2 separate regions of the Homo sapiens genome follow, and region 1 is linked to region 2. Evidence: fine-mapped QTL for protein levels in blood plasma. A gene starts in region 2. The other region holds a variant in brackets. All regions are shown on one strand. Distances are from middle to middle.

Region 1 (15,611 bases), 59 kb after region 2:
AGTATCCCATGGTATATCTGTACACCACATTTTCTTTATCAGATCTTCTGTTGATGGGCACTTAGGGTGATTCCATATCTTTGCTATTGTGGCTAGTGCTGTGATAAACATATGTGTGCAGGTGTCTTTCTGGTGTAATGATTTCTTTCCCTTTGGGTAGATAGCCAGTAGTGGGATTGCTGGATCAAATGGTAGTTCTATTTTTAGTTCTCTGAGGGATCTCCATACCGTTTTCCATGGAAGTTGTACTAATTTACATTCCTACCAACGGTGCATAAGTGTTCCCTTTCTCTGCATCCTCACCAGCATTTATTGTTTCTGGACTTTTTAATAATGGCCATTCTGACTGGTGTAGTATCTCATTGTGGTTTTAATTTGCATTTCTCTGACGGTTAGTGATGTTGAACTTTTTTTTTTAAATATGTTTGTGGGACACTTGTATGTCTTCTTTTGAAAAAAATGTCTATTCATGTCCTTTGTCCACTTTTTTCTTTTTTTGAGTCCAGTTTCTGCAGAATGCCTACTTTTTAATGGGATTATGTGTTTTTTTTTTTCTTGTTGAGTTGTTTGAGTTCCTTGTAGATTCTTTTTTTTTTTTTTTTTTTTTTTTTTTGAGACAAAGTCTTGCTCTGTCACCCAGGCTGGAGTGCAGTGGTGTGATCTCGGCTTACTGTGACCTCTGCCCCCCAGGTTCAAGTGATTCTCCTACCTCAGCCTCCTGAGTAGCTGGGATTACAGGTGCCCGCCACCATGCCTGGCTGATTTTTTCGTATTTTTAATAGAGACAGGGTTTCACCATGTTAGCCAGACTGGTCTCAAACTCCTGACCTCAAGTGATCCACCAGCCTTGGCCTCCCAAAGTGCTGGCGTTACAGGCGTGAGCCACCATGCCCAGCCTTTCCTTATAGATTCTGGATATTAGCCCTTTGTTGGATATATAGTTCAGAAATATTTTCTTCCATTCTGTAGGTTGTCTATTTACTCTGTTGATTGTTTCTTTTGTGGTACATAAGCTTTTTAGTTTAATTCAGTCTCATTTGTCTGTTTTTGGTTTTGTTGCATTTGCTTTTAAGGACGAATTCTTTGCGTGAGCCAATGTCCAGAAGAGTTTTTCTTCTAGGATTTTTATAGTTTCAAGTCTTATGTTTAAGTCTTTAATCCATCTTGAGTTAATTTTTATATATGCTGAGAGATATGGGTCCTGTTTCATTCTTCTTCATATGGCTATCCAATTTTTCCAGCACCATTTGTTGAATAGGGTATCTTTTCCCCATGTATATATTTTTGTTGACTTTGACAAAGATCAGTTGGTTGTAGGTATGGGGGCTTTATTTCTGGGTTCTCTATTCTGTTTCATTTATCTATTTTTCTGTGTTTATACAAGTAACATGCTCTTTTGGTTACTATAACCTTGTAGTATAATTTGAAGTTGGGTCATGTGATGCCTCCAGCTTTGTTCTTTTTGCTTAAGGTTGCTTTGACAGGCTCTTTTTTGGTTCCATATGAATTTGAGGACTTTTTTTCTAATTCTGTAAAAAATGGCGTTGGTAGTTTAATAGGAATTGCGTTGAATCTGTAAATTGCTTTGAGCATTATGGTCATTTTTAACAACATTGATTCTTCCATTCCATGAGTGTGGGATGTTTTTTCCATTTGTTTGTGTCATCTACAATTTCTTTCATCAGTATTTTGTAGCTCTCTTTGTAGAGATCTTTCACCTCCTTGGTTAAATGTATTCCTAGGTTTTGTTTTGTTTTGTTCTTGTTTTTGTTTTTGTTTTGGTGGCCATTACAAATGGGATTGAGTTTATGATTGGGTTCTCAGCTTGATTGTTATTGGTGTATAGAAATGCTACTGATATTTTTGTTTGTTTCTTCATTTGTTTTTTATAGAGACAGTGTCTCACTTTATTGCCTGGGCTGGTCTCAAACTCCTGGGCTCAGGCGATCCTCCTGCCTCAGCCTCCCAAAGTGCTGGTGTTATAGGCATGAGCCAGTGCACCCAGAAAAATCACCACCACTGATTTTTGTACACCAACTTTGTATCCTGAAACTTTACTGAAGAGTCATTTTATTTATTTATTTATTATTTTGGCTTCCTCAATCATGGTATTATTATTTATTTCTCTTTAAAAATATGGAAAGCTTAACGAATTTGCATGTCATCCTTGTGCAAGCGCCGTGCTCATCTCTGTATTGTTCCAGTTTTAGTATATGTGCTGCCAAAGCGAGCACTGAAGAGTCTTTTCTTCATAGAGCAGCCAGAGTGATCCTTTTAGGAATTTAGTGAGATCTTCTCACTCTTCTGCTCCGAATTCTCCAGTGGCTCCCAGTCTCCCTAAGAGCCAAAGCCAGACTCGATTATCCTGCCAGGTATATGTCATGTGGCCCTCCAGTCCCTCCTGGCCTCCTCCCCTGCTGTTCTTCCCTTGGCTCACTTCACTCTCACCACATGAGCCTCGAACGCGCCAGGCACGCTGCAGCCTTAGGGCCTTTGCACTGCTCCTCCCTCTGTCTAGAACATTCCTCTCAGATAGTCTCGTGGCACACTCCCACTTCCTTCAAGCCTGGCCTCAAATCTCACCTTCTCAGTGAGGCCCACCCTGACCACCCTTTTTAAAACATTGGCCTGGCCAGGCACCGTGGCTCACGCCTGTAATCCCAACACTTTGGGAGGCCGAGGCGGGCGGATCACAAGGTCAAGAGATCGAGACCGTCCTGGCCGACATGGTGAAACCTCGTCTCTACTAAAAATACAAAATTAGCTGGGTGTGGTGGTGCATGCCTGTAGTCCCAGCTACTTAGGAGGCTGAGGCAGGAGAATCACTTGAACCTGGGAGGCAGAGGTTGCGTTGAGCCGAGATTGACCACTGCACTCCAGCCTGGTGACAGAGCAAGACTCCATCTCAAAGAAAAAACAAACAAACAAAAAACATTGGGTCCTTCCTTTCTCCCTTCACTCCAACCCCTGGCCACCACCAGTGCTTCCCTTAACGGGCTCTATTTTTTTTCCATGGCACCTCTCCCCTTTTCACATCCTATATAGTTATTATGTTTATTGTTTGTCTCTGCCACTAGATGATGAGCTCTGTGAGGACAGCAGTTTCCATCTGTTTTGTTTGTGGATATATTTTTAGCTCAAAGAACAGAGTGTGGCACATAGTGGATGTGCTTATTGTTTTTTGAATTAATGACTATGTAGTACTTATACATTGAGGACCTATTCCGTGCCAGGTTCCTGGCAGGGCACTGGGAATCCAAAAATGCATGAGAGTGGTCCCTGCCTTCTGTCCCAGAGTCTGTTTGTTTTGAGGAAGGACACCATTCATCTGCTTAGCTTGCCCTGCTCCCTCAGCCTGAGGGCTTGGACCCTTTGTGCCTGTTCTTGCCGTGTAGTTACCCCTATTGGCTGTGAGCTCAGGGCCCCTTCTTGAGTCATTCCTGGAGTTTCGCTGCTCCATGATGTTGCTGTCCTCTTGCTCCTGCCCTTCACTGAAGTGGTCCTGGATTTGCACCCACAGGCTGAGCTGTCAGATACTGCTTTTTGCCTAGTAACCTCCTTGAGCCTGGAACTAGACTTTTCATTTTCTCAGCCTTTTTTTTTTTTTTTCTGAGACATGGTCTTGCTGTTGCCCAGGTTGGAGTGCAGTGGCATTATCACAGCTCACTGCCGCCAACTCCTTGCCTCAAGCAATCCTCCAGTCTTGGCCTCCTGAGTAGGTAGGACTTCAGGCACACACCACCATACCTAGCTAATTTCTTAATTTTTTTGTAGAGTTGAGGTCTTGCTACGTTGCCCAGGCTGGTCTAGGAACTCCTAGCCTCAAGTGATCCTCTTGCCTCAGCCTCCCAAAGCACTAGGGTTACAGGCATAAGCCACCATGCCCAGCCCTCTCTGCCTTTCTGACTTGGATTTGAATTCTGTCTCTACCACTTAATAGCTCTAATGACCTTGGGCAACTCAGGTAGCTTCCCTGATCCTCAGTTTCCTGAATTACATAATAAGATTAGTATTAATACTTAGTTCATAGGGATATGGTGAAAATTAAATGAAACCATGAATGTAAAGCATTTAGTACAATCCTTAGAATGAATTCTCCATCAATAAATGTTACCCTCTGTTATTATTATCGTTATTGAATTGTTATGGATTATGTAAGTCATTTATAAAGGCACTGAATAAATGATAGTTATCGTTACCGCCACCACCACACAACCCCACCAAAACCAGTCCTTTTGGTATCCCAGGCGCTCCTCTCTCTAGGATGACCCCTTCAATGCATGTCAGCTACTCTTTGACCAAACCTCACAATGATTTGCCTAATGTTCCTGTTTTTTTCCTTTTCAGACCTGAAAGAAGACTATAATCAATGGAACAACCTTATTGAAGGCATTGGACCGTCGCTCACCCCAGGGGCCCCCCACCATCTGTCCAGCCTGTAGGCACAACTGGCCATTTGTAAAGTCACTTCAGCCAAGTTTTCATTTGGGAGCTACCCAAGGGCACCCATGAGCTCCTATCAAGAAGTGATCAACGTGACCCCTTTTCACAGATTGAAAGGTGTAATCACACTGCTGCTTGGATAACTGGGTACTTTGATCTTAGATTTGATCTTAAAATCACTTTGGGACTGGGATCCCTTGCTGATTGACAAACAGACTTTCTGGGACCTTGATGGAGTGGGGAACAAGCAGTAGAGTGGGACTGGGGGAGACCCAGGCCCCGGGCTGAGCACTGTGAGGCCTGGATGTGAAGACTCAGCCCAGCGAAGCTCATTCCCTTACCCCCGGCCAGTGCTGCTGCTTCAGTGGAAGAGATGAAGCCAAAGGACAGAATGAAAATCCCTACCTTCAGAGACTCTAGCCCAGCCCAACACCATCTCTTCCTACCTCTCAGCCTTCTCCCTCCCCAGGGCCACTTGTTGAAGTCTGAGCACTTTATGTAAATTTCTAGGTGTGAGCCGTGATCACATTTTCTATTTATTTCCAAGTCTTCTCATTGTATGGAACATAGTACTACTTATACTTACAGTAGTAAGTTATACTTGTGAGCCCACAGAGTGGCAGACAGCATGGCTCTCACAGCACAGGGAGAAAAACTGAGGTACACAGAGGTACCTCAGAAGCTCTGGATGTCTTTGGGGGTTTTGCTAAGTGTATCTTGATAGGAAACAACAAAAGCAGGTTGAGATGGGGAAGATGACAGAACAACAGTGTTAAATGGCCATTTGCACAGGCCTTTGCCACAACAGAGAAGTAGTTTGGTCAGCTAAAACTCAGCTGCAGCCTGGACAGTAGAGCGAGACCCCATCTTAAAAATAAAGAAGGCTGGGCGTGGTGGCTCATGCCTGTAATCCCAACACTTTGGGAGGCCAAGGCAGGCAGATCACTTAAGGCCAGGAGTTCAAGACCACCTGGCCAACATGGTGAAACCCCGTCTCTACTAAAAATACAAAAAATTAGCCTGGCGTAATGGCAGGCGCCTATAATCCCAGCTACTCAGGAGGCTGAAGCAGAAGAATCACTTGAACCTAGGAGGCGGAGGTTGCAGTGAGTCAAGATCGCGCCACTGCACTCCAGCCTGGGTGACAGAGCAAGACTCTGTCTTAAAAAAAAAAAAAAGAAAAAGAAAAATTTAAAATAAATAAAATTTAAAAACGCAGAAGGCCACTCCCAGAGAGGCCTAGGAGTACCTTGGTCATTTTTTCTTGCCTCAAATATTATAAACCTCCAACTTGCTCAGAATCAGGGTGCTTTTATTGTCTGTTTTCTGGCTCTGAGGCCCTTGCCCCAAATTTAAGTCAGATACAGACTGAATTTCCATTCTGTTCTGTTTATAATATGAATGATATTAATACTCTTGTTTGCTTAATGTTATGTTGGAATTTTCTGTTTAATCTGCAGTAGAGCAAGATGGAGAGCCATCTGGAATTGACTTCCTTCTGTCTTTCTTCTGTGTTCGCTTACTACTTGGGCCCATGTGGGAAAAAAACTTTAAAAGGAAGGAAGTCTTCTTAGGGATCCAGTTCAAAGCTATTTGGGGGCATCAAACTGAAACTCTCTTCTCCACTACTCAAGACTTCGTGCCTCAGTCCAAGTAGGTAAGAGCAAAAGGGAAATGCATCTCTACACAATGGCCCATGGTCAGGGCCACCAGAGCAAGCTGGGCCTAGATCTCCACCTGTCAGTGACTGGCCATTCTAAGAGGTGAAACAGCAGATCGTTGAGGCTGTGAGGGAGGATCTTTGAATTCCCATGAGACATAGCATAAGAAGGGTATCATTAAAGCCCTGGGCTCTAAAGTTACAGAGCCTGGTTTTGAGTCCTGGCTCCACCACTGCCAACTGGGTAAATTTGAGCAAATGGTATTCTCTTTCTTATCTCAGCTCCTGCGTTTCTAAAATGAGGGTCTGCGTTATGAATAGTTAGGAGGATTAAGTGAGAGGATGTATAACCCATGGGTTACTTAAAAGTATATTTCCTACCTTCCAAACATGAGATTTTTCTAGTTATAGTTTCTTTTCTAGCTTGATTGCTTTGTGGTCAGAGAAAATGACCCATATGGTTTCCATCCTTCAAAATTTGTTGAAACTTGGTTGTTGGCCTAGTATGAGATCAATGTTGTAAATGTGCCATGTATGTTTAAAAAGACTATATATTCTGAAGAAGTTGTTGGCTTGCTCTTTTACTCAAGAACACATCATAGATTTCTGTCTTTTTTTTTTGAGATGCAGTCTCACTCTGTCACCCAGACTGGAGTGCAGTAGCATGATCTCGGCTTACTGCAACCTTCGCCTCCCAGATTCAAGCAATTCTCCTGTCTCAGCCTTCTGAGAAGCTGGGACTACAAGTGCACGCCACCACACCCAGCTAATTTTTGTATTTTTTTAGTAGAGATGGGGTTTCACCATATTGGTCAGGCTGGTCGCAAACTCCTGACCTCAGATGATCCACCTGCCTCGGCCTCCCAAAGGGCTGGGATTACAGGCATGAGCCACCGTGCCGAGCCCATAGATTTCCTTCTATGAGAGCACAGACAGATATATAATGGGGCCTTCCAACTACCACATGGGCACCAGAGACCCTCAGCACTTGCAGAACCAGCCGTAGGCCAATCCTGAGCATACGCCACCCTTGTGCTGATTCCACAAATGCTGAGAGGCCGGTTCTGGCAGTAGCAGCATGTGAGACCCAGGTTCTACCTTAGCTCCATAAATAACACAGGTAAATTTTACAAAACCATGAACAAGAGACCTGGAGCCTCCCTAGTGAAGGGAGTGTTCCAGAAACTAGATCCCTTTCCTTCATTCAATTCATGTTCTGGTAATCACTCATTTATCCAGCAAACACTAGAGTATGTGAATTTTCCATATAATTGAAAATTATCCTAGAGGCAGCAAAATATAATATTGATTATTTTGAATGGTAATCTACCAAAAAGATAATACACACACTTTTTAATCAAAGTGAGCTGACCTCGTTCAACCTTTTAGGATGTTCCAGTCAGGATAGACTAGGTTGTATGGTGGTAACAGGCAATCCCAAAAGCAACAAAAGTTTATTTCTTGCCCATGCCACTTGTGCTCTTTGATCGGCTGCAGGCTCTGCTCTGCATCATTTTTATCCTCACTCTAGGATCCAGGCTGGTAGAGCTGCCATTATCAGAAAGTGTTGCTGTTCACCATGGTGGAACAGGAAGAAAGCCTGATGAATCACCCGCTAGCTCTGAGAGCTTCTGCCCGGGAGTGACTCTCGTTATTTCTATTCATGTGTCATAAGCCAAAGCACGTCCTGTGGCCATTCCTAACATCCCAAGAAAGCCAAAATATTTGTGACCAGGTCTCATGTCAGAGAAGTGGTGTCCTCTGATCTAGGAAGGTGCAGAAAGCTGTTTGGCTTGCATGGGGTTGCCCCCTGTGCTGCGTTGCTGTTCAGAGTTGGTGTTGTCTCATTTGTGGTCAGGCTGCAACCATCGCTCTTCAACGCACCAGCCCCTAGCAGCCCTCCCTGGCCACTTCAAGTTTATGACTTTCGATGCGCAATGGACTGATAAATCAGCCACATTATTTAAAACTCTGTCTAAGGGAAAACAAGGCAGTCAGTGAGCAAGGGTTTTAGGGACTCCCTTGCAGCTAAAGTATGTCACCTTTAGCGCATGGGCTTCGTAATCCTCTGACTGCTCCAGAAGGGGTATCACAAGGCCTTTGGTCTCTCATTCTGGTTTTTGGTTAGCTTCCAGGGGCCTGAAGGATACTTCATAAATGGCCTTTAGATAAGCAAGGAAATCCTGATGATAACTGACATGTGCTGATAAATTGCATCCTAGTGAATCTTTTCCAGAAAGAGGATGTCTTGGGTTTCTTTTCTTTTTTTTTTTTTTTTTAGTAGAGGCGGGGTTTCACTGTGTTAGCCAGGATGGTCTTGATCTCCTGACCTCGTGATCCACCCGCCTCGGCCTCCCAAAGTGCTGGGATTACAGGCATGAGCCACCGCGCCCGGCCTGTCTTGGGTTTCTTTGGCATCTTCTCATTCCCCATCCCGCTGCAAGACTCTGTGCCTATGGAGGCCTCCTAGTGGTATAATGTGAAGTTTCTGTGCATGGGATGGCAAGCCAGTTAGGAAGGAAGGTAAGTAAATATCCCTTCCACTTCCTGGACTTCAGACTAAGGCTGGTTGGATTCTTGCTGTGTCCCTAATGCAATCCCCGAGCCCCTTCCACTGTGCATTCTGACACAGCTGCCCCTCTTGTCCTTCCTCAAAAATTCTATTGGGCTCTTGAAATGTCAAATGATGGATTCCAACTCCGTGTCTTGACCTT[G/A]TGGGGACCTTCATCTACCCCCTTTTTTTCTGGAGCACCACTTATCCCTAGGCTCACAAAGTGACAGAGGGACAGGAGAGGCCATACTGTATGTTTGGGACTCATCCTCATTAGGAAGCTCACTTTCTATCCCATCATAGCCAGGTGCAGAGGGCAGCTGTCCCTGGCCATAGCTGCAGGGCACAGTGACAATGAGGGTGCTGAGGATGATTGTCGCTGTGTGTCAGGACTGTGCTCTGGGCTGACATGCATCATTTCACTTACTTCTCATGGTAACCCCACCAGCTCAGGTGGCATTGGCCTCATTTTATGTAGGAGGAAACAGGCTTCAAGAAGCGATTTCATCAGGCTCTCAGCAAGAATTTGGCAAAGCTGGGACATAGGCATCAAAGTTTGAGGGTTTTTTTTTTTTTTTGAGATGGAGTTTTGCTCTTGTTGCCCAGGCTGGAGTGCAATGGCATGATCTCGGCTCACTGCAACCTCTGCCTTCAGGGTTCAAGCGATTCTCCTGCCTCAGCCTCCAGAGTTGCTGGGATTATAGGCATGTGCCACCACGCCCAGCTAATTCTTGTATTTTTACTAGAGATGGGGTTTCACCATGTTGGTCAGGCTGGTCTTGAACTCCTGACCTCAGGGGATCCACCCGCCTCGGCCTCCCAAAGTGCTGGGATTACAGCCATGAGCCACCATGCCCAGCCAAGGGTTTTTGTTTTGTTTCGTTTTCTTGAGATGGTCTCCTGTCACCCAGGCTGGAGCGCAGTGGCGCAATCACAGCTCACTGCAGCCTCGACCTCCCAGCCTTAATCCATCTGCCTGCCTCAGCCTCCTGAGTAGCTGGGACCGCAAGCGCACACCACCATGCCCGGCTAATAAAATCTGAGCTCTTAATTACTGTGCTGTTAACCCTAATATACATACTTGGCTTTGCAGTTTCTCCCATTTCTTCAAACTCTCAGGATATAGGGAATGTATTAATCTCATGATCAATTAACTAAAAAATACCAAAATCTTCAGCAACTTCTACATGACCTGTGTTGAGTTTCAGTGATATCCTCAGCATTATTGAGAAATGGGTTGAGGGAGAAAAATGGCTTCACCGGAAACTGGGTCAGGTACTTGGTTGATGGGTGGGGTGTGGGGTGTTGTTTGTTTTTTGTTTGTTTTTGAGACAGTGTCACTCTGTTGCCCAGGCTGGAGTGCAGTGGCATGATCACTGCTCACTGTACCCTCAACCTCCCAGCCTTAAGCAATCCTCCCACCTCAGCCTTCCAAGTAGCTGGGACTACAGGTACATATCACCACACCTGGCTAATTTTTTGTTTATTTTTTGTAAAGACAGTGGTCTGTCTGTGTTGCCAGGGCTGGTCTCAAACTCCTGGGCTCCAATGATCCTCCTGCCTCAGCCTCCCAAAGGGCTGGGGTTACAGGTGTGAGCAGTTCAGGGACTAAGAACACAGTCTTTGAAATCAGACAGCTCCAACACTATTAGCCCTGTGACTTTATGCTAACTCATTCACTTCTATGGCCTTTAATGTTCTTATTTGTGAAATGGGGATTCTAATAGTATTTAACTCATAAGGTGGTTGTGATAATTAAATGAAATAATGCATGTAAAGCACTTAACATGGTGGCTAGATTAAGGACTTAATAAACATTAGCTATTACCAGTCTTGTTTCATTTGGGCCTCCTTACATAGCTGTAAGGTTAGGTACAATGGGCCCTTGAACTAAATGGCCCCAATGATCTTGGTCTAAGTGCTTTTTTTCTTTTTCTTTCTTTTTTCTTTCTTTCTTTCTTTCCTTCCTTCCTTCCTTCCTTCTTTCCTTTCCTTTCCTTTCACTCTTTTCCTTCCTTCCTTCCTCCTTCTTCCTTCCCTCCTTCCTTCCTTTTTCTCTTTCTCTTTTTCTCCTTTCTTTCTCTTTCTTTCCCTCCCTCTTCCCTTCCTCCCTCCCTCCCTCCCTCTCTTCCTTCCTTCCTTCTTTCCTTCCTTCCTTCCTTCCTTTCTTCCTTCCTTCCTTCTTGTCTGAGTCTTGCTGTCACCCAGGCTGGAGTGCAGTAGTGGGTTCACAGCTCACTGAAGCCTTGAATTCCCAGGCTCAAGCTATCCTCCTGCCTCAGTCTCCTGAGTAGCTGGGATTACAGGCATGCACCACCATGCTTGGCTAATTAAAAAACATTTTTTTTTTGTAAAAACAGGGTCTCCCTATGTTGCCCAAGCTGGTCTCAAACTCTTGGGATAAGTGATCCTCCCACTGCAGCCTCCCAAAGTGCTAGGATTATAGGCGTGAGCCACCATGCCTGACCATTGGTCTAAATTGTTATTCCAGCTTCTACAGTCTCACGGTTACCTTCCTCGAGTGGACCCTCCTAACTGCCAGCCACCTACTACCATTGTGTCCTCATGTCAGGGTGGAGCTAGGTGGAGAGACAGTTTCCCATTCTCTTTGCTCTGCTATCCCTGCTCCTCACATGAAAAATCAAAATCCCCACCCTAGTTCTAGCCTTGCTTGCTTTTCCACCTGGAAGAGTCCACACTCTTAGGTTCTGGTTTGGGTTTTAATTTCACACCAGATCATCCAAACACATCTATGCCTCAGCTGCAAATTGAAGATCCTAAAATGTCAAAAGGGAGAAACAGATCTGTGGAGAGGTTGGCCAAAGGGAGGAGCTGGGGGCAGGGGCTTTGTAGCAGAGGCTAGTTGTCTTAATTTTTGTCTGCTGCCTTTGACACCAGGTGAGGGGGTCAGAATGCATGGTGACCTCCTCAGGGGAAACCCCCAGGCCTGCAGATGGCCGGTGAATTGGCTCTGCACAGCTCCCTCCCTCACGGTTTCCTGCCAAGTCCTCCTGTTTCTTCACTCTTGGTGGTTCTCCCACTCAGCCCATCCTTTCCATCTTGTTTGAGCCTGCTGTCCTGCCAGCTCACCCCTGGGCTCATTTCGCAGTCTTCTGGACTGTAATCTCTCTTTCCCCCCGGCGTTCTGCTGCCAGATCTGCCTGAAATGCTGCTTTTGCATGAAAATACCAGCCTGGTAAGATGGTCTAATGGTAACAGGACGGACTCGTTGTCTGGAGCCCTGGGTTCTTGCCTCTATCACCTGTTTGCTCTGTGATGTGTACGTGTGCATGTGCATGTGTGTGTGCGTGTGTGTGTGGTTTTCCTCTCTCAACTTCAGCTTTAGTTTCCTTATCTGTAAATTGGGACATGGGTTGGTGGTTGTTGAATTGGCCGGTCTCTAAGGCCCCTTCAGTTCTGGCATTCAGTATCTCTGTTATTGAGGTGTCATGGATTTCCAGGAATCCCCTTTCCTTTTTTTCTGTTTCTTTTTTTTCTTTTTTCTTTCTTTTTTTTTTTTTTTTTTTTTTTTTTTTTTTTTGTGATGGAGTCTTCCTCTGTCGCCCAGGCTGGAGTGCAATAGCACGATCTCGGCTCACTGCAACCTCCGCCTTCCAGGTTCAAGCAGTGCTCCTGCCTCAGCCTCCCAAGTAGCTGAGATTACAGGCATGTGCCACCACACCTGGCTAATTTTTGCATTTTTAGTAGAGATGGAATTTCATCATGTTGGCCAGGATGGTCTCAAGCATCTGACCTCACGTGATCCACCCACCTTGGCCTCCCAAAGTGCTGGGATTACAGGCATGAGCCACCGCGCCTGGCTTCCCCTTTCCTGTAGAATCGCACTACACTTCTTCATTCTTTCTGACCTCGCCTCTCCTCTCCTGCCTTCTACTTCTTAATGTGCACTCTTCCCACAGTCCCCTTCATTTGCCCACACATTCCCCAAACAAAACGTCACCCAGGCTGGAGTGCGGTGGCGCAATCTCAGCTCACTGCAACCTCCACCTCTCAGGTTCAAGTGATTCTCCTGCCTCAGCCTCCCAAGTAGCTGGAATTACAGGCACGCACCAACACGCCTGGCCAATTTTTGTATTTTAGTAGAGATGGGGTTTCACCATGTTGGCGAGGCTGATCTCAAACTCCTGACCTCAAGTGATCCGCCTACCTCGGCCTCCCAAAGTGCTGGGATTACAGGCGTGAGCCACCGCGTCCAGCTCTCCTGAGGATTTTCTTGCCTGCAGGGCTTCCCCACCTCATCCCCACCTCCTTTCTGCACATCCAAATCTTGCTAATGCTTTAGGCTTATTTCTAATCCCACCTCTTCCATGAAAGCCTTCTTGATTAAATTTGACTAACATTTGATCTCTTGGCCTCCTGTTCCCCAAGAGAAATCCAGTCTGTGCCAGATTTAGTATTGCCCTTTATCACATTATTCCAGGAGCAGGGCCCATCTGTTGTACAGGAAAGAGCATCCTCCTGTTGACTGACATGGGGGACAGGGATCCTTGGCCCCAGCCCCCCATCAGCCCTCGTTCCCCAGACAGACTTGGGAACAGCTGGAGCTCACCCAGCCTTCTGACATCTCCAGCTGCCTCTGCTTCCTTTTCTTTTGGTTTTCCCAGGTCCCAGCTGTGGGGCCAGGGCAGAGCCAGCAGCAGCACAGCCAAAGCAGCTGGAGCGAACTTCTAAGTTGCACGGACAAGTAGCATTTGGGAGTTAGAAGGAGTGCAGAACTGAGCACAAATCACACCAGTGTTGAAAATGAGGGAAAGCAGTTTGCCAGCTTATTTTTCCCATCTTGCTTTCATCTAAAAAAAGAAGCTGCTCAGAAATACAGTTCTTTTCAGCCTGTTAAGCCAGATGGCCCCGAGATGCTCAGCCTGCCAAGTGTGTATATATAATTATTCATCTTCATGGAATCACACCCAGGTTTGAATCCAGACTCTGACATTTTTCTTTTGTTTGATCTGGAGCCAGTGAATCTTTCCGAGCCTTTGTTTCTTTTTCTGCAAAATGGGGACACTGGCATCTACCTTGCCCACCTCAGAATTTTTTGGGTAGGATTAGGGATGGGCTTAATGTAAGATGTCAAAGCACCGGACACATATACGTTGCTGTTAATTATAAAAAGTGCCATATTTTGGTTTTGTCCTAATGTGCTACTTCTTAATGAGCACTTATTCTGGCCAGATACTCTGCATTGTATCATTTAATCCTAACAACATTCCAGTAAGGTAGTGCGTGTTAGCCTCATTTTGTAGATCAGGAAGGCGAGACTCAGAAAGATTTGCTAGCCCAGCCAAGTCACCCAGCATGTAAGTGCTAGAACCAGTATTTGAACCTAAATGGTTGGGCTCCAAAGTCAGTGGGGTTTTGGGGGGTTTATTTTTTTGAGACAGTCTCACCCTGTCGCCCAGGCTGGAGTGCAGTGGTGCAATCTCGGCTCACTGCAAACTCCACCTCCTGGGTTCAAGCAATTCTCATGCCTCAGCCTCCCAAGTAGCTGGGACTACAGGTGCACTCCACCACACCCAGCTAATTTTTGTATTTTTAGTAGAGATGGGGTTTCACCATATTGGGCAGGCTGGTCTCAAACTCCTGGCCTCAAGTGATCTGTCCACCTTGGCCTCCCAAAGTGCTGGGATTACAGGTGTGAGCCACTGCACCGGGCCCAGAGTCAGTGCTCTTAACTCCTGGTCATTACTATCTCACAATAGGAAAGAGATTCTTGACCCTAGGTAGGCTAAAGTAGCCCACAACTTGATATCCAGCTAAATGCACTAAGCAGTTAGGTCCAAGAGCCGTTTTAATTGAAGACCAGACTGAGTTCTGACAGTAAAATGTACACCTTGAATTGTTTTTCTAGCAGTAAACGGGCTCCATTCATTCATACACCTTGTATAAAGTGAACAATTCAGGGGACAAACCCATTAGTACCATACCCTGTAAACCACAGAGCCAACCAGCTGGCAGAAAAAATTTTTTTAATCTCTAGCCTAAATATTGTAGATTAGCGATTCTCAGCTCTAGATGCACATCCAAATCACCTGGGAACTGCATAAAAATCCAGGCCAGGCACAGTGGCTCATGCCTGTAATCCCAGCATTTTAGGAGGCCGAGACGAGTGGATCATTTGAGGTTAGGAGTTTGAAACCAGCCTGGCCAACATGGTAAAACCCCTAAAAATACTACTAAAAATATAAAAATTAGCCGGGTGTGGTGGTGCATGCCTGTAATCCCAGCTACTCAGGAGGCTGAGGCAGTAGAATCACTTGACCCCGGGAGATAGAGGTTACAGTGAGCCAAGATCATGCCACTACACTTCAGCCTGGGCAACAGAGCAAGACTCCATCTCAAATAAATAAATAAATAAATAAAAATAAAGATACAGATACCCTGGCCATGACTCCAGAGATCCAGAGATGCTGATTCAGAAGGTCTGGAGGGGGGCCCAGGTGTGTACATGTGTGTAAGTTCCAGGAATATTACTTCCTGATACACAGTGAAGTTTGAGAATCCTTGCTGTGGTATAAGCCTTCTAGTCTATTTTTTTTTCTTTTTTTTTTTTTGACACAGAGTCTCGCTGTGTCACCCAGGCTGGAGTTCAATGGCATGGTCTTGGCTCACTGCAACCTCCGCCCCCCGGGTTCAAGCAATTCTCCCGCCTCAGCCTCCCAAGTAGCTGGGATTACAGGTGCCTGCCACCATGCCTGGCTAATTTTTGTATTTTTAATAGAGACAGGGTTTCACCATGTTGGCCAGGCTGGTCATGAACTGCTGACCTCGTGATCTGCCCGCCTCGGCCTCCCAAAGTGCTGGGATTACAGGCGTGAGCCACTGCACCTGGCCTACTAGCCTATTTTCTTTTATGAAATAAGAGTAATTGCTAGCTGAAAACACAGAATCATTAAATTTTAGAATTGGAAGAGGCCTTAAGTTATTTGGTCCATGAGG
Region 2 (14,999 bases):
CTGAGGCTCAAACCACTCCAGAGATGACAAGTCCTGTCACCTTCAGGGAGGCGGAGGCCAAAGACAAAACTTGAAGGTCAGAGTCCAAGGCTGCCAAGCTTCGCCCCTGGGAAATAAAACTTATCAAAAATGCTACTCAGAGGGTGACCCACGCTAATTAGAAAACCGTGGCCGGCTCTGGCCAATTTCAGATCCATTAGTAAACATTTAATGAGCACCTACCTGCTGTGTGCAGCTCCCTAACTTCCAGTTTCTCAAAGAAGTTCAGACTGAAATCACTTTCAGGTTCATCAATAATGAACTGTGCTTAGCGGTAACTAAAGTCAGCTGAAAAAAGAACTTCCTGCAAGCAAGAGTACCTGAGTGCCTCATCAGAAAAGTGAGGGAGGGCATGGCAAAGGGAGAGCCTTGTCGCTCAAAGTGAGCTTCTGCCTGAGCGCTGAGCTGCAGGGGCTTGGGGGAGATCCCTGACTTTTCAGGCTCCCACCTTGGAGACCACTAGGGATAGGTCCCAGCAAAAGGACCCTGGGGCTGACCGGGACAAGTCCATTCTTACTCCTGGCTGTGAGGGCTCCCTGGAGGCCTCCATGTACCTTCAGGAAGTGGAAGGATCCCATTCCCACGAGAGCCCTTTGGCCGAGAGAAGTCCCGGGAGCCCCAAGCAGAGGCAAGAATTCCTGGGAGGGAGTGGAGCTCAGAATAGTTGATGTTGTTGGAGCAGAGAATAGGGAGAGAGACCTGAGGGAGGAGCAAAAGGAGGATACCAGAGTGACAGTTCCCGACTCAGGTAGGCCCTGGGAGATGGTGGGATACAGAAGGAACCCTCTGCCACCGGGGCCCTGGACAACCTCAGAGGGACTCCCATTCTTGCCTGCCCAGCTAGCCTTTAGAGGCTGCTGGCCTGCTGGGGACACAGAGGGTTAGAGTGCTTAGGGGATAACTATCACCTGAGGCGCATCACCCCCAACTAGCCCAGGCGGAAAGAGTTTCTGTACAAGCTCACCACATCCCACAGGCCCCCAGTCCCTTATATATGTCAAGGGCCTCTCACTGGCAGGAAATTCTTTAGATCTGACCTGCGTCATATTTGCTATAACCAAAGGCTGTTTCTTTGAGAGGTTAATCCCCAAAATTAGACACGGGAGCAGCTTCCAGCTGTGACTGTGAGGCCCTTCTGAGGCATTTGATGAGGTTGATCATAAACTTTTACTTAAAACTCAGAATTCTCATACTGAAGGCTTTGGAGATAGGCAATTCTGGATCAAAATACTGGCTCTTTCCGGCTGGGTGGCCTGAGAAAAATTACTTAACCTGTCTGAGCTTTCGTGCCTGGTACACAAACACTTAAATGCTAACAACTAGCATATTTTATTATAATCATTATTTATATAAGTGCTTAGCACAGAGTAAGCACTATACAACTGTATGTGGGGAAAAAAAATATTAGGGTAGGAGGTTTGGAATGAGTCGTGTTTTATGTTTTGAAAGATCCCCAGGGGAGAATTCCAAAACCTACCTTAGACAACCCTTGCTTCAAGTCCCCATCTTAATGGAAGTGCTCTCTGCCATCTAACCTGGCTCCCTCCTGCTGCTGCAGCTGAGGCCTAAGTCTACCAGGACTACCTGGTTCTCCCATCTCAGTCCTGCCTTCTACCCTCGTTTTTGGGCTTGCGTCTATTCCAGCCCCCTCCCATCCAGCCCCCAAGGCAAAAGGTTCACTTACTGCCCAGGTCCAGGGTCTTGCTCACAGCGCCCATCCCAGGGGCAGGCAGAGGAGCCAGTGTCTGCTGTGCGCCACCCACCCCTCTCCTCTTCCAGGGCTAGCAGGGCTACCCCGGGCTGGGGGCTGTGTTGCCGCAGCTGGCCAGGAGCCCCACCTCGCAACGGGTGGGCTTCAGGGAGAAAAGGGAGGGCCACATCAAAGCCGGGCCGGAAGGAGTCCACCGTGGGGCTGGCCTCAGCCACCATAGCCTGTCCCAGCTGGAAGGTCCTGGGGCAGGGAGCCGGGTGGAGACGGAGGACCAGATGGTTCCTGCCCCTGTTCCATTGCAGAGGCATTGAGCTGCACTCTCCAGTCTGGGCGTCCAGGCTGAGGAGGAGGAGGAGGCAGGCCCCAGCAGGGCTGAATGTGTAGAAGCGAGAGCCCTCAATGGAAGCCAGGATCCTGCGATGAGTCTCAGAGATGGTTCCAACCGCTGGGTACACGAATACCTTAAGGCCATCGCCCCTGCACTTTGAGGTATCAAAGCAAGATTCCCAGTTGCAGCTGCCACCATGAGGGGCTTGAGGAGGTGAAACGGCATCTTCTGGGAGCTCTCCAGGCTGGGAGAAGCTCTGCAGGAGCTCTGCATCCAGCCAGCGGGGCCAGCCTTGGGAAGCCCCGGGCCGAGGTCTGGGAGGCAATGCCAGGCGGAGAAGGGAGAAGCCTCCCAGCAGGACAAGCAGGAGCCAGGAGGCTGACAGTGCCAGCCACAGGGACTTTCTTCTCCTCCACGACTGCATGTGGCCACCCACAGTCAGGGCTAGGGAAGCTGGGAGGCCTCTGCCAGCAAGCAGGAAGAGCAGGGCCTGGGGCGGGAGACCAGAGCTGGGACCGACCTGCTAGTCCTGTGCTGTCATTGTACAGATGGGAAGACTGAGGCCCATCGAGACCAGGCCGCCTGTCTAAGGTCAGATAGTGAGTCACCAGCCAGGCAGGAGGAGGCCAGGTGGGACCCAGCTTGCTGGCCTGGCCCCCCTGCTCTCAGGACTCTGCCTTCTCGGCCTTTGGACAACCAAGCCAGCCTTTTCCCTCCCAGCAGGGACCCCTGCCCCTGGGCACTGCTCTGGCTGACGCAACCCCTGTCCAGAATGCAGGGCCGTGTCCCCCTGCCCTCCTGGCTGCACCCCTTGACCTTGCCCTCAACTGAGAGGAGGGCTGTCTGCCAGGCCATGGGGACCAGTCAGAGCTCCCACAGGAGGCGGCTTGGCCAGGGACAGGCTGGAGGGAGCTGGGCTGGTCTTCCCACTCCTCCCCTTGCCTGAGCAGCCCTGGCTGCCCCTGTGCCCGCTGGCAGACGCTTCTGGGCTGTGGCCCCTGTGGCTGGAGCTAAAATTAGACCCTGCATCCCATGTGGATCATCGGCGTCAGCTGAGGTCACAGCCTGGGTGCAGCCGGTGTCCCCCTGCCTTGGAGGGCCAGGAGGGCTCGGGGTCCTGATCCTTATCCACTCTGCCGCTGCACCAGCTCAGGAAGTGCAGCCCCTCTTCCCCGCAGCCCAGCAGCTGCCTTGCACCATCTGGCTTGGAGCTATCACAGTGCAGAGGCCAGGGCCGCTGTGCCAAGCCCCCCAAACCCTATGGTATCTCCTCCCATCCCTCTCCAGTCGGCAACTGGCCCATCCTGATCTCTTTCCTTAGCAGCAGCCTGGCTCCTCCCCTCCCAGCCCTGATTCGCTCCTGGCTGGGAGGCAGGGTCTCCATTTAACCCCTTCCAAACCAGTTTCCTCAATTGCTAATCCAACCAGCAAGTACTGCAACTCACAGCTGGCCATGAGTTATCACAGCCTCTGTCTCTCAGTCCTCCAGCCACCCTCCAAGGCAGAGATTTACCTGTCATTTCTTACAGATGAGGAAAGCTCAGAGAGGGGATGAACTCTTCCTAAGGTGACCCAGCTAAGAAGTGGCAGGGTGGGGATTTCAATCCTGAGCTCCTGGTCGTTGGTCACCCCAGCTGTGGGCCCTGTGGCTGGAGAAAAACTAGACCCTGCACCTGCTGTGGGCCATCAGAGTCAGTGGAGGTCAGAGCCTGAGTGTGAGGAATCTCTGAATCGGCACATGAGAAGGTCAACAGGTGAGACAAGTGAGGAGTTAAGGGGCGGGGGTGGAGGAATTGGGTAAGGTGCCCCCAACTGTCCCCAGGATTGGTCTCTCCTCCTTCAGCAGCCCCACCCCCAATCTCCTCCAATTCCCAGCCTTTTGCTCCAGTCCTTATGGAAAGTTCTTCCTGCACTTGACTCTTCCATAGTCCAGGCCCCATGGAGGGATTTCCCCGGTCAGTGCCCTGTGAGGGGAGTCAGGAGTGGGTGATGTCAGCCACTGAGGAATCTCTGGGGTGACGGGGGAGACACACTCTGGCCATGAGGAGTTCTGGGCTGATGAGGGAAGGCACAGGGAGTGGACAGACTTGAGTGGGTTCTGCCTCTTCCCCTGACTGCCTCGGGGGTGTTGGGCCTCTGTCCCCTTATCTCTGGGATGGGCATAATGTCAGCCAGGAATGGGTTGCCAGGTTGACGCAGGCCTGTCCCCTGAGGTCCCTCAACAAGTGGTGGCCTCCTTTCCCCTGCGTGCCTCCCCTTGATCTTGGAGGGCTGCTGATCAGACCAGGGAGCCACCGTGGGATGTTTTGCCCTCAGTGAGCAGCCAGTGTGAGAGTCCTAAAAATGGCCCACAAAGGGGACACTTGCCTCTTGGCACTAATGGCTCAGCCACTCGGTGATGAACTGCAGTTCCTGCATAACTCAGTCCTCCCACACTGAGAGGCATCCACAAAGGCCACTGGCTGCTTCGCACGCCCCCCCTTTCACTGTGCCCAGCCAACTCCTCATCCTGCAGGAGTCAGCTGAAAGCTCCCTCCCCACAAGAAGCTTCTCCAATGCTCCGCAGGCTGGGTTAGAGCCCCCGTCTAGGTCCTCATGTCATTCCTTCATCCCTCTATCCCCATACACAGTCATCCATTCATCTAACAAACACTTATGAGTGTTGAATATGGGCCAGGTTCTGAGCTAGGCCAGGAACACAACCCTGAGTAAGAGTAATCATAGCTGACACTCGTATTGCACTTACAGCGTGCCAAGCATCCCTCTTTTGTATCAGCTTGTTTCATCCTTTCCCCAACCCTAGGAGGGAGAAACTGTGATGATCCACATTTTACAGTTGGGAAAACTGAGGCCGAGGGAGCTTAAGTAATTTGCCTGAATTCTCACGGCTTAGCCAGGACTTGGACCCAGGTAGTGTGCTCCTATATCCGCTGCACCATTCCAGCTCCCAACAGGGAGGGAGACAGACGCGTCCCCACCCTCCAGAGCTCGCTGTCCTGGAGAAGACAATTATAGAACTAGGCAATTGCAGGCAATTACAGAATGAGGGGAGGGGACCCTGAGAGTACACAGAGGGGCTGCCTAGCCCAGGGGGCCAGAGAAGGCTTCCGAGGAAGTGATACCTACCCTAAGACCTGAAAGACAGCAATGTGGTTTTTAGAAAAATCGCTGTGGCTGTCTGTGTGGGATCAGACAGGAAATGGCAGGACTGGAGGCAGGGACAGCTTTTTGACTGGTCTGTCACCCCACAAGTCTCTCATTCATTCAACAGCTATTTACTGAACCCCTATTGTGGGGCCAGGCAGGTCTTAAGGGCAGTGAGCAAAGCAGAAAAAATCTTGCCCTCCTGGAACTTACCCTCCAGGGAGGGGAAATAGGCAAGAAACAAAATGAATAAATATCTCATACTATTTGACAATAACTGCTGGGGAGATGGGATGGGTTGCAATGTTAGACAGAAATACGGGAGGCCTCATAAAAAAGCTGGCATTTGGGAGGCTGAGGCAGGCGGATTACAAGGTCAGGAGATTGAGACCGTCCTGGCTAACACGGTGAAACCCCGTCTCTACTAAAAATACAAAAAATTAGCCGGGCGTGGTTGCAGGCGCCTGTAGTCCCAGCTACTCGGGAGGCTGAGGCAGGAGAATGGCCTGAACCCGGGAGGCAGAGCTTGCAGTGAGCCGAGATCGTGCCACTGCACTCCAGCCTGGGGGACAGAGCGAAACTCCATCTCAAAAAAAAAAAAAAGCTGGCATTTGTGGCCTGGTGCAGTGGCTCACATCTGTCATCTCAGCAATTTGGGAGGCCAAAGTGTGCAGATCACTTGAGGCCAAGAGTTCGAGACCAGCCTGGCCAACAAAGCAAGACCCCATCTCTACTAAAAATACAAAAACTAGCCCGGCGTGGTGGCGCACGCCTGTAATCCCAGCTACTTGGGAGGTTGAGACATGAGAATTGCTTGAAGCTGGGAGGTGGAGATTGCAGTGAGCCGAGATTACGCCACTACACTCCAGCCTGGGTGACAGAGCGAGTCTGCCTCAAAAAACAAAACAAAACAAAACAAAAAAAACTCTGGCATTTGTGTAAATTTCTGAGAAAGTGAGGGAGTGAGTGAAGAAGTATATTTCTAGGGGAAAATCGCTCCAGGCAAGAGGAACAGCCGGGCCACAGGTTCTGAGGCAGGAGTGTGCCTGCCACGTGATTGGTACGCTCTGACCTTGTTTTCACAGCACGACTCAGGCTGCAGGGAAGAGGCCGGCTGTAGGGTCAGGGACAGCAGCAGGGAGCCCTGCTGGGCCAGGCTGTAGTGCAAGTGAGCCACTGCGGTGGCTGGGACCAGGATGGCAGGGGTGGGATGAATAGAAGTAGTTGGATTCTGGGTATATTTTAAGCCAGGGCAAATTGACAGATTTGCTGATAGATTAGATGTGAGGTCCGGCCTGCACCACAGACAGGGTGGAGTTGTCATTAACTGAGATGGGGAAAACTGAGGGGAACAGTTTTAGGGAAGAAGATCAGAAGTCTGGTTCTCATATATCCTTCTTATCCCCAGCAATAATAAAATAAATGTCCAGGTTGGGCACAGTGGTTCACACCTGTGATCCTAGCATTTTGGGAGGCTTAGGCAGGAGGATCCCTTGAGCCCAAGAGTTTGAGACCAGCCTGGGCAACATAGCGAGTCTTTGTCTCTACAAAAAAAAAATTTTTTTTAACTGGAGCTGGTGGCTCATGCCTGTAATCCCAGCTGCTCGGGAGGATGAGGTAGGAGGATTGCTTGATCCCAGGAATTTTAGGCTGTAATGAGCTATGGGTGCCACTGCATTCTAGCCTGGGCACAAGAGGAAGACCCCATCTTTAAAAATATAAAACAAATATAAATAAATAAATAAGCCAGGCATGATGGCATGCACCTGTAGTCCCAGCTACTCAGGTAGCTAAGGTTGGAAGGTCAGCGGGAGGATCTCTTGAGCCCAGGAGTTTGAGATCAGCCTAGGCAACATAGCAAGTCTGTCTTTATTTATTTATTTTTTTAAAGATATATGTATCCAACAAATACTTGTTGAATGAGTGAAGGAATGGAGGGACGGACAAAGTTGAGATAGCTAGGAAGCCAAGCCCAGCTGGTTTGGGGTTTGGAGGAATACCTAATCCCGTTCTATTAATAGCTCTATGTGTCTCCCACCCCAGCCCTGGGGATGCTGGCTGGCTCCTGCCCATGCCCATATTTGTGCACACACATAAGCCTTCTCCTACCTTCATCCCTGTGGAGGAGGCTCTCAGGCCAGCTGGAATCTGGGCTTGTCTAGCCTGCGATTCACGTGGTTGCCCTGGGGCTTGGATGGAGGAAGAGAAGGCCAGGGCATCCTGGCAGGCAGGACTGAGGTCAGGGATCTGCCAGGGGCCTCCGTCGGGCTTTTCAGTGCTCAACAAAGCCACCAGGAGCCTCCATCCTATACCTGGGCTCTGATCAGTGGGACAGAAATGATCACTTTGGGCGACGGGAATGAGCCAGAGCAGGAAGGAGAGGACAGCACTGAGTGGGAGGAGAGGCCCTGGCCTCAGGTGCAATGAAGGAGGCTTCCTGGAGGAGGCAGAGGACTTGTTTCTTACAGGACAGGATTGAAGCAGGCCTTTGTGTGAATTTGAGGACACAGATGCCTCTGGAGGCATCGCAGAGCTCTGAGCACTGCAGCGTGTGTCATAGCTGCGGTGGTGTCACAGCTGCCTGGGGGCTGCCTGGGCATGGGGGTGCTTCCTGCCTGAAGCACCAGGTGTCATATTGGCTAGGATGCCCAGGCAGAAAATGGGGGCTAACAATACCGTGTTTCACCTGAAGTGTTTCCTCTCTGCACCCTGCTTGGCCTTCCTTCCCTCCCTCCCGCTTCAGGCTGGGCCTGAAATCTGCAGAAGGAATGGCCCTGGCCCTCAGAGGAAGGGACCCAGCACTATAGAATGCTGTGGTTAAGAGCACAGCTCAAGTGCTCTTAACAAGCCGTGTGTTCCTGTGAAGTTACTTCACCTCTCTGTGCTTCTGTTTCCTATCAGTAAAATGGGGATGCTAATAATAGCTCCTTCCCTAAAGGCTTACTGGGAAGGAGATTAAAGAAATGAGGTAGTGAGTGTGCAGCATTCAGCATACCACGCCTGGTGTGGAGCAGGCGCCTAGCAAATGGCATCCTTCTGTCCCTCCTCAGACCCAGGGAGTTGAGGTGACTTGCCCAAGGAGCGCCAAGGTATCCATCTGGGTGGATTGGGACCAAGACTTGGGCTTCCCCCTCCCTGTTTCTCTTGCTGCATCTCCACCTCCATTCAGGAAGAAAGAAGATACTTGGACTCCAGGAAATGATCACCGTGGAAACCCATCTGCTGCTTCTTGTCTACGGCTGTTTGTTCCTCCAGCTCTGGGCTGCCTGAGTGTCTCACAGCAGAATTAGCAAGTGCGGAGGCTGAAGGTTTCTAGAGGCTCTGAGGTCACAGCTCTCGCTTGAGTGCACATAACTATAAGCCATGGTGAGTCCCAAGACTCTGCAATATCAGTCAACTCCAGCAGACACTTCAGTCTGGCCCTGTAGACAACCCCCTAACCCCCGCCAGGATGCAGAGCAGTTCCTGGACCCCACAGGGTGCAGGGCCAGGCAAGCCATCCAGGGGACCTGGGGACGGGGGTTGGAGAAAGTAGGTTCTAGCCTCTGCTCCTCTTCTAGGCGTGGCTATGTGATCTTGGACAAGTCACACCCTTTTCCTGGGCCTTCATTTTCTTTTTTATTTATTTTTTAAATTTATTTTTCATTTTAAAATTTGTTTTAGAAACTGGGTCCTACTCTGTCACCCAGGCTGGAGCGCAGAGGTACAATCACAGCTCACAGCAGCCTCAAACTCCTGGGCTCAAGTGATCCTCTCACCTCGGCCTCTTATACCGGGACTATGGATGTGAGCCACCAGAACTGGTCCCGGGTTTTTCTTTTCTTTCTTTTTTTTTTTTTTTTTTTGAGACAAAGTCTCACTGTGTCGCCCAGGCTGGGGTGCAGTGGCGCGATCTCCACTCACTGCAACCTCTGCCTCCCAGGTTCAAATGATTCTCCCACCTCAGCCTCCTGAGTGGCTGGGATTACAGGCAACCACCACCATGCCTGGCTAATTTTTGTATTTTTAATAGAGACAGGGTTTTGCCATGTTGACCCGGCTGGTCTTGAACTCTCAACCTCAGGTGATCTACCCACCTCAGCCTCCCAAAGTGCTGGGATTACAGGCATGAGCCACCGCACCCAGCCTTGGGCTTTCATTTTCTTATCATCAACCTGAAGTGGTAGCAGAACTAGGCTTTTCAGAGCAAAAAGATTTGAAATTCTTACTCAGAAGTAATCCTGACAGAGCTTGGAAGGTCAATCCTTCCATTTCCCATCCTGTCAACACCACTTTGTTAAGGAAAATTTTGTAAAGCTTGGAAGTGAAGCAATGAGGAGCCTGTGTGGCCTTAATCCTCCCACTGGGGCATTGCGTAACAAGCCCTCAAGTGTTGTAGGACTCCCTAAAGGGAAGTAACTTTGTTTGACCTTTTTTTTTTTGGAGACAGGGTCTCGCTCTGTCACCCAGGCTGGAGTGCAGTTGTGTGATCATGGCTCACTGCAGCCTTGACCTCCCAGGCTCAAGTGATCCTCCCAACTCAACTTCCTGAGTAGCCAGGACTACAGGCCCACACCACCACACCTGGCTAATTTTTTTTTCTTTTTTAGAGATGAATTCTTTGTTGCCCAGGCTGGTCTCTAACACCTGGGCCCAAGCCATACTCCTGCCTCACCCTCCCAAAGTGTTGGGATTACAGGCATGAGCCACTGTGCCTGGCCTTGTTTGACTTTTTACTCCCTATGTACAAACTTTTTTCATTTTGTTTTGTTTTGTTTTGTTTTTGTTTTAGATGGAGTTTTGCTCTTGTCGCACAGGCTGGAGTGCAATGGCGCGATCTCGGCTCACTGCAACCTCTGCCTCCCAGATTCAAGCAATTCTCCTGCCTCAGCCTCCCAAGTAGCTGAGATTACAGGTGCCCACCATTACACCCGGCTAATTTTTGTATTTTTAGTAGAGACGGGGTTTCAACACATTGGCCAGGCTGGTCTTCAACTCCTGACCCCAAGTGATCCACCCACCTCGGCCTCCCAAATGCTGGGAATACAGGCGTCAGCCACCGCGCCCAGCCTGGCCCAAACATTTAATAAGTCTGAGAACTATGGTGCTAATGTATAGAAAACAGATTTTTGTCCAATAGTGATACAAATGACTTCTGACCAATAGGGATCACCCCTAAAGGTTCTAGTTCATGCACTATAGAGCATTCCCCAATTTGGAATCTAACTAGCAATCTTGTTCTGGCATTCCCTGTGCTTCCTCAACTCCCATCAGTGGGTTCTCTGAACCAGCTCTGTCATCCTGAGAGTTGCCTCATGAATAAGTGAAACAACAGAGACATGTGCTTACTGTGTATTTGTATGATTTTTTTTTTTTTTTTACATTTAGAGGATTATAATTTGGGAGCTCACTGAGGCTCATTTTCCTCTTCTGTAAAATAGGGAATTCAAGGGAGAAGTTGAATGTGTGTCAGGCACTACTGAGCTCTTTAGATCCAGAATTTCATTTAAGCCTCACAAGAAAACTGCCAGGGCAGATGGCTATTCCCCTGATTTTACAGATGAGGTTCAGAGAGGTGAAGTGATTGCCCCAAGGCCACACAGCCAGTGAGTAACAGGCTGGATTTGAGCCACTGCATCACAGGAGGCTAATTCCCTCCTCACAGGCTTACGGTGGGACTCATTGGATGAGATAAGGGTGGAAAAGTGCTTAGCAAACTGTACAGGTAGATACACAACTGATCATTATAGTCAATCCGAGCCCACCTTGCCTTACCTTTCTCCTCATGCCACCTTGCCTAAGACCAAGTCTACCTCTAATTAATGTTGTCCCAGACCCATATGGACTTCCACTGGGATGGCACCAGTTTCAAGAGGCTACAGAAGAGAAATGAAGCCAGAAAATGAGACATAGGATTTATTTGAGGAGGCTTACATACAGGATGGTCCCATGGTGGCAAGCTGGATGGGAGAACCACAACCGCTTGCAAAAAAAATGCAGTTTATACAGTACCCTCGGCCAGGCACAGTGGCTCATGCCTGTGCCAGCATTTTGGGAGGCCGAGGTGGGTGGATCATGAGGTCAGGAGTTTGAGACCAGCCTGGCCAACATGGTGAAACCTCATCTCTACTAAAAATACAAAAATTAGCTGGGTGGGTGGCAGGCGCCTGTAATCCCAGCTACTCTGGAGGCTGAGGCAGGAGAATCATTTGAACCTGGGAGGCAGAGGTTGCAGTGAGCCGAGATGGTGCCATTATACTCCAGCCTGGGTGACAGGGCAAGACTCTGTCTCAAAACAAACATATATATATATATATATATGGCATCCCCACATAGCACCCTCCCTCAGCATCCTTCATGTGGCAGCTCTTGTTTCTTCAGTTATTGCTGTCAGGTGCATCTACCATACACCAGCCACCCCTAAACACCACCCAGGGCCTCTCCCTCTGGGAGGTGGGTCTCTGCTTCCTCTAGAGTGAGTTTCTGTTATCCAGAGAAAGCCAGGGGGGATTAAGGTGACCAGGCATCCCTGGTCCATCCCCTCACACACAGGACCTTGTTCATACCTCAAGCTGCAGGTTGAGCTTTTAGTCCTGGCCACCTCTTTGGGGGCTGTATTCCTGGGACAGGGGTCTGGGGAACATCCCATATTCCTGGGACAGGGGTCTGGGGACAAGCCAAGTGAAGTAAATTTCAAACCCTGATTCTGAAGCCATTCTGTGCCATCCTCCTGAATGTCTCACCTGAATTGGACCTGTTTGAAGGCTACAGAAGCCGTGCCCAGCCTCCCTCAAGTTAGTTTCTGGACCCTTCTAGAGCAGCCCACGTCTGAACACCTCAGCTCTGGGTACCAAGGGGTTAATGCATGGAGCCAGCTTGGCAAATGTTTACCTAACAGGCAGGCTGCTGCCAACCCCAGGTAATTAACAGTCTGCTTTCCAAAGCCCAGACACGAAGATTTCTTTCTCCTCTCCTCCTTTCCCAGGGATGCCTCTTGGCAGAGTGAACACAGCTGTCTGTTGGCTCTTTGAGAAGATGCCCAGCAGAGGTGGGAGCTGAGGGCAGGGATCAGGCCTGGAGGGAAGCAGGCCCAGAGGTGGGCACCAAGGAGGAGATGGAGGGAGCTTTGTCCCATTTCTCTCTGAGTCTTGGCCCCATCTTGGAAACCTGGCCCCAGACTGCCATTCTTGAATATGTGATAATTACTGCTATAATTGGTGGAGCCCCTGCAAGGGGCTTACATACTTTGCCTCACTTAACTTTCACAACTACTAGAAGAGCGAGGCCCTCTTATCTCTGCTTTCAGATTAAGGAAGGGAGATGCAGGGTGATGAAATCACTTGTCCAGGCTGGGGGCAGTGGCTCACGCCTGTAATCCTGGCCCTTTGGGAGGCCAAGGCGGGTGAATCACGAGGTCAGGAGTTCGAGACCAGCCTGGCTAACATGGTGAAACCCTGTCTCTACTAAAAATACAAAAAATAATTAACCGGGCGTGGTGGCAGGCGCCTGTAATCCCAGCTACTCAGGAGGCTGAGGCAGGAGAATCGCTTGAACCCAGGAGGCGGAGGTTGCAGTGAGCAAAGATCACGCCACTGCATTCCAGCCTGGGTGACAAGAGTGAGACTCCATCTCAAAAAAAAAAGAAAGAAAGAAAGAAAGAAAGAAGTCACTTGTCTAGGGTCACCCAACCAGTGTGGGGTAAAGCCCATACTTGAACCACAGTCTACTTTCCCTTATGGAAGAAAAAGCAGTGGATTTGTTCAGTACCTACTATATACTGGACGCTATGTTGGACACTTTATGTTTACCTCTAATCCTGGAGGTGTCATTTCCTTAAATTGCTTTAATAAGCCATTAGCATCAGAAGAGTGAGATAGTCACTTGAGCCCAGGAGTTCAAGACCAACCTGGGCAACATAGTGAGACCCCCCCCCGCCCATTTCTTTTTCTCTCCTTTTTTTTTTTAGACGGAGTTTCTCTCTTGTTGCCCAGGCTAGAGTGCAATGGTGTGATCTCGGCTCACTGCAACCTCTGCCTCCCAGGTTCAAGCAATTCTCCTGCCTCAGCCTCTCGAGTAGCTGGGATTACAGGCATGCACCACCACGCTCAGCTAATTTTGTATTTTTAGTAGAGATGGGGTTTCTCCATGTTGAGGCTGGTCTCGAACTCCTGACCCTAAGTGATCCACCCGCCTTGGCCTCCCAAAGTGCTGGGATTACAGGCGTGAGCCACCACGCCCGGCCACAAGACGCCCCCTCATTTCTTAAAAAAAAAACAAAAACCTAGCCTGGCATGGTGGCACGTGCCTGTGGTCCCAGCTGCTTGAGGCTGAGGTGGCAGGATCACTTGAGCCCGGGAAGTTGAGGCTGCAGTCAGCTGTGATTGTACCCTTGCACTCCAGCATGAGTGACAGAGCTAAAAAAAAAAAAAAGAAGAGTGAGATAGTACAATTCATAAGTAGGGGAGGAAGCATAAATGTGCATCTCAGAAATAAGAATAGAATGAGCCTCAAGTTGCTTCTTGTAATCTGAAAGGCTCCTTGTTGGATGGTCATCAGCCTCATCTTCAAAGAAACCCTGAAACCAGCCTCGCTCCCACCTCCCCTGCCCTCACCCTAAGCTAAGCCGCCTTGCTCACCCGGGATCATTGCATTGGCTTCTGGTCCCTGCTTTCCTCTCGCCTCACTAAAGTACTTTCTCCTCCCAGCAGCCAGAGGATCTTGGTAAAATATAAGCCCACTCTCTCCTTGGCTTTGACACTGTATTAACCATTGTCTTTTTATTGCCTGTATTTTAATGCTCTGTCTCACTGGGGCCTGCCCTGGAAAGACTGCCCCTCCCAGAGCTAGCCAGTTCCTAGAGAGAGCAAGCCAAGGGCCCTTGAATATGCCTTTCAAGTGCAAAGCAACCAATCAAGAGCTCACACCCCATGCCACCTCCTCTACTGGGCTCTCACACTCAGGGCCACGATTCTCCGGCCCTCATCACCCCAGAGCCAGGTACCAGACTACTAGGGAAAGCCCCTATCCCCTGAGCTGACAGTGTTCAAACTAGAAAATGCTAAGCCTGCTTACCCTGCCTTGCCCGTTCCTTTCCAAGGAAGCTAGACAGAGTGGGAATGGGGTTTGGCTTCAGCTCACCCCCACTAGAGCATTCTTTCACACATTCTCACTGATCATAAAACCCATACCATTACCTCGCTGACACCATCCCCGCTAACGCCAAGGCTTTAGCCAAACAAAGAAAGTCGCCACTGCCGGGCACGGTGGCTCACGCCTGTAATCCCAGCACTTTGGGAGGCCGAGGTGGGAGGATCACGAGGTCAGGGGATCGAGACCATCCTGGCTAACATGGTGAAACCCCGTCTCTACTAAAAAAATTCAAAAAATTAGCCGGGCGTGGTGGCGGGCACCTATAGTCCCAGCTACGTGGGAGGCTGAGGCAGGAGAATGGCGTGAACCTGGGAGGCGGAGCTTGCAGTGAGCCGAGATCACGCCACTGCACTCCAGCCTGGGGCAACAGAACGAGACTCCGACTCAAAAAATAAAAATAAAAAAAGAAAGTCACCATTCTATATTGTAGAGTAACTGATTTACAGGTTTGTTGCTGCTGGTCAGACCACCACCAGATGGCCCATTACTCAAGAAAACCATCCAACCGGATGTGCTGACCTGCATCTCCTACCTCTCACATGCTTTGCCCAGCCCAGCCTGCATAACCTACCCACCATCATTTCCCATGCTTTGCCTAATAAAAAATCCCAGCCAGCTCTTTTCAGAGAGTCAGCCAGGGAATTCTCT

Which allele goes with the higher level. Positions count from the first base shown, and alleles are read on the strand shown. Strength reflects both the effect of a copy and how common the allele is.
As copies of A replace G in region 1, the plasma level of the protein whose gene starts at base 3,374 in region 2 goes down (weak association).

Evidence for each region. PIP is the posterior inclusion probability: the model's chance that the variant is causal. The UK Biobank Pharma Proteomics Project read protein levels with antibody pairs (Olink). The fine-mapping took linkage between variants from a reference panel, not from the people measured, so its PIPs are less certain.
Region 1: its variant is fine-mapped to the plasma level of the EXTL1 protein (UK Biobank, PIP 0.92).

The regions. Positions count from the first base shown.
Region 1 is chr1:25,950,820-25,966,430 of GRCh38, reverse strand. It overlaps PAFAH2 (platelet activating factor acetylhydrolase 2), which reads left to right. Exons shown (of 11, transcript NM_000437.4): 11 at 4,348-6,664. The coding sequence ends at 4,442. It also overlaps the pseudogene RNU6-110P. Among named protein-coding and RNA genes, the nearest start is that of PAFAH2, 39 kb to the left of the region's middle. The variant G/A (reference allele first, on the strand shown) is at 8,818.
Region 2 is chr1:26,010,150-26,025,148 of GRCh38, reverse strand. It overlaps EXTL1 (exostosin like glycosyltransferase 1), which reads right to left and starts at 3,374. Exons shown (of 11, transcript NM_004455.3): 1 at 1,724-3,374. The coding sequence starts at 2,502.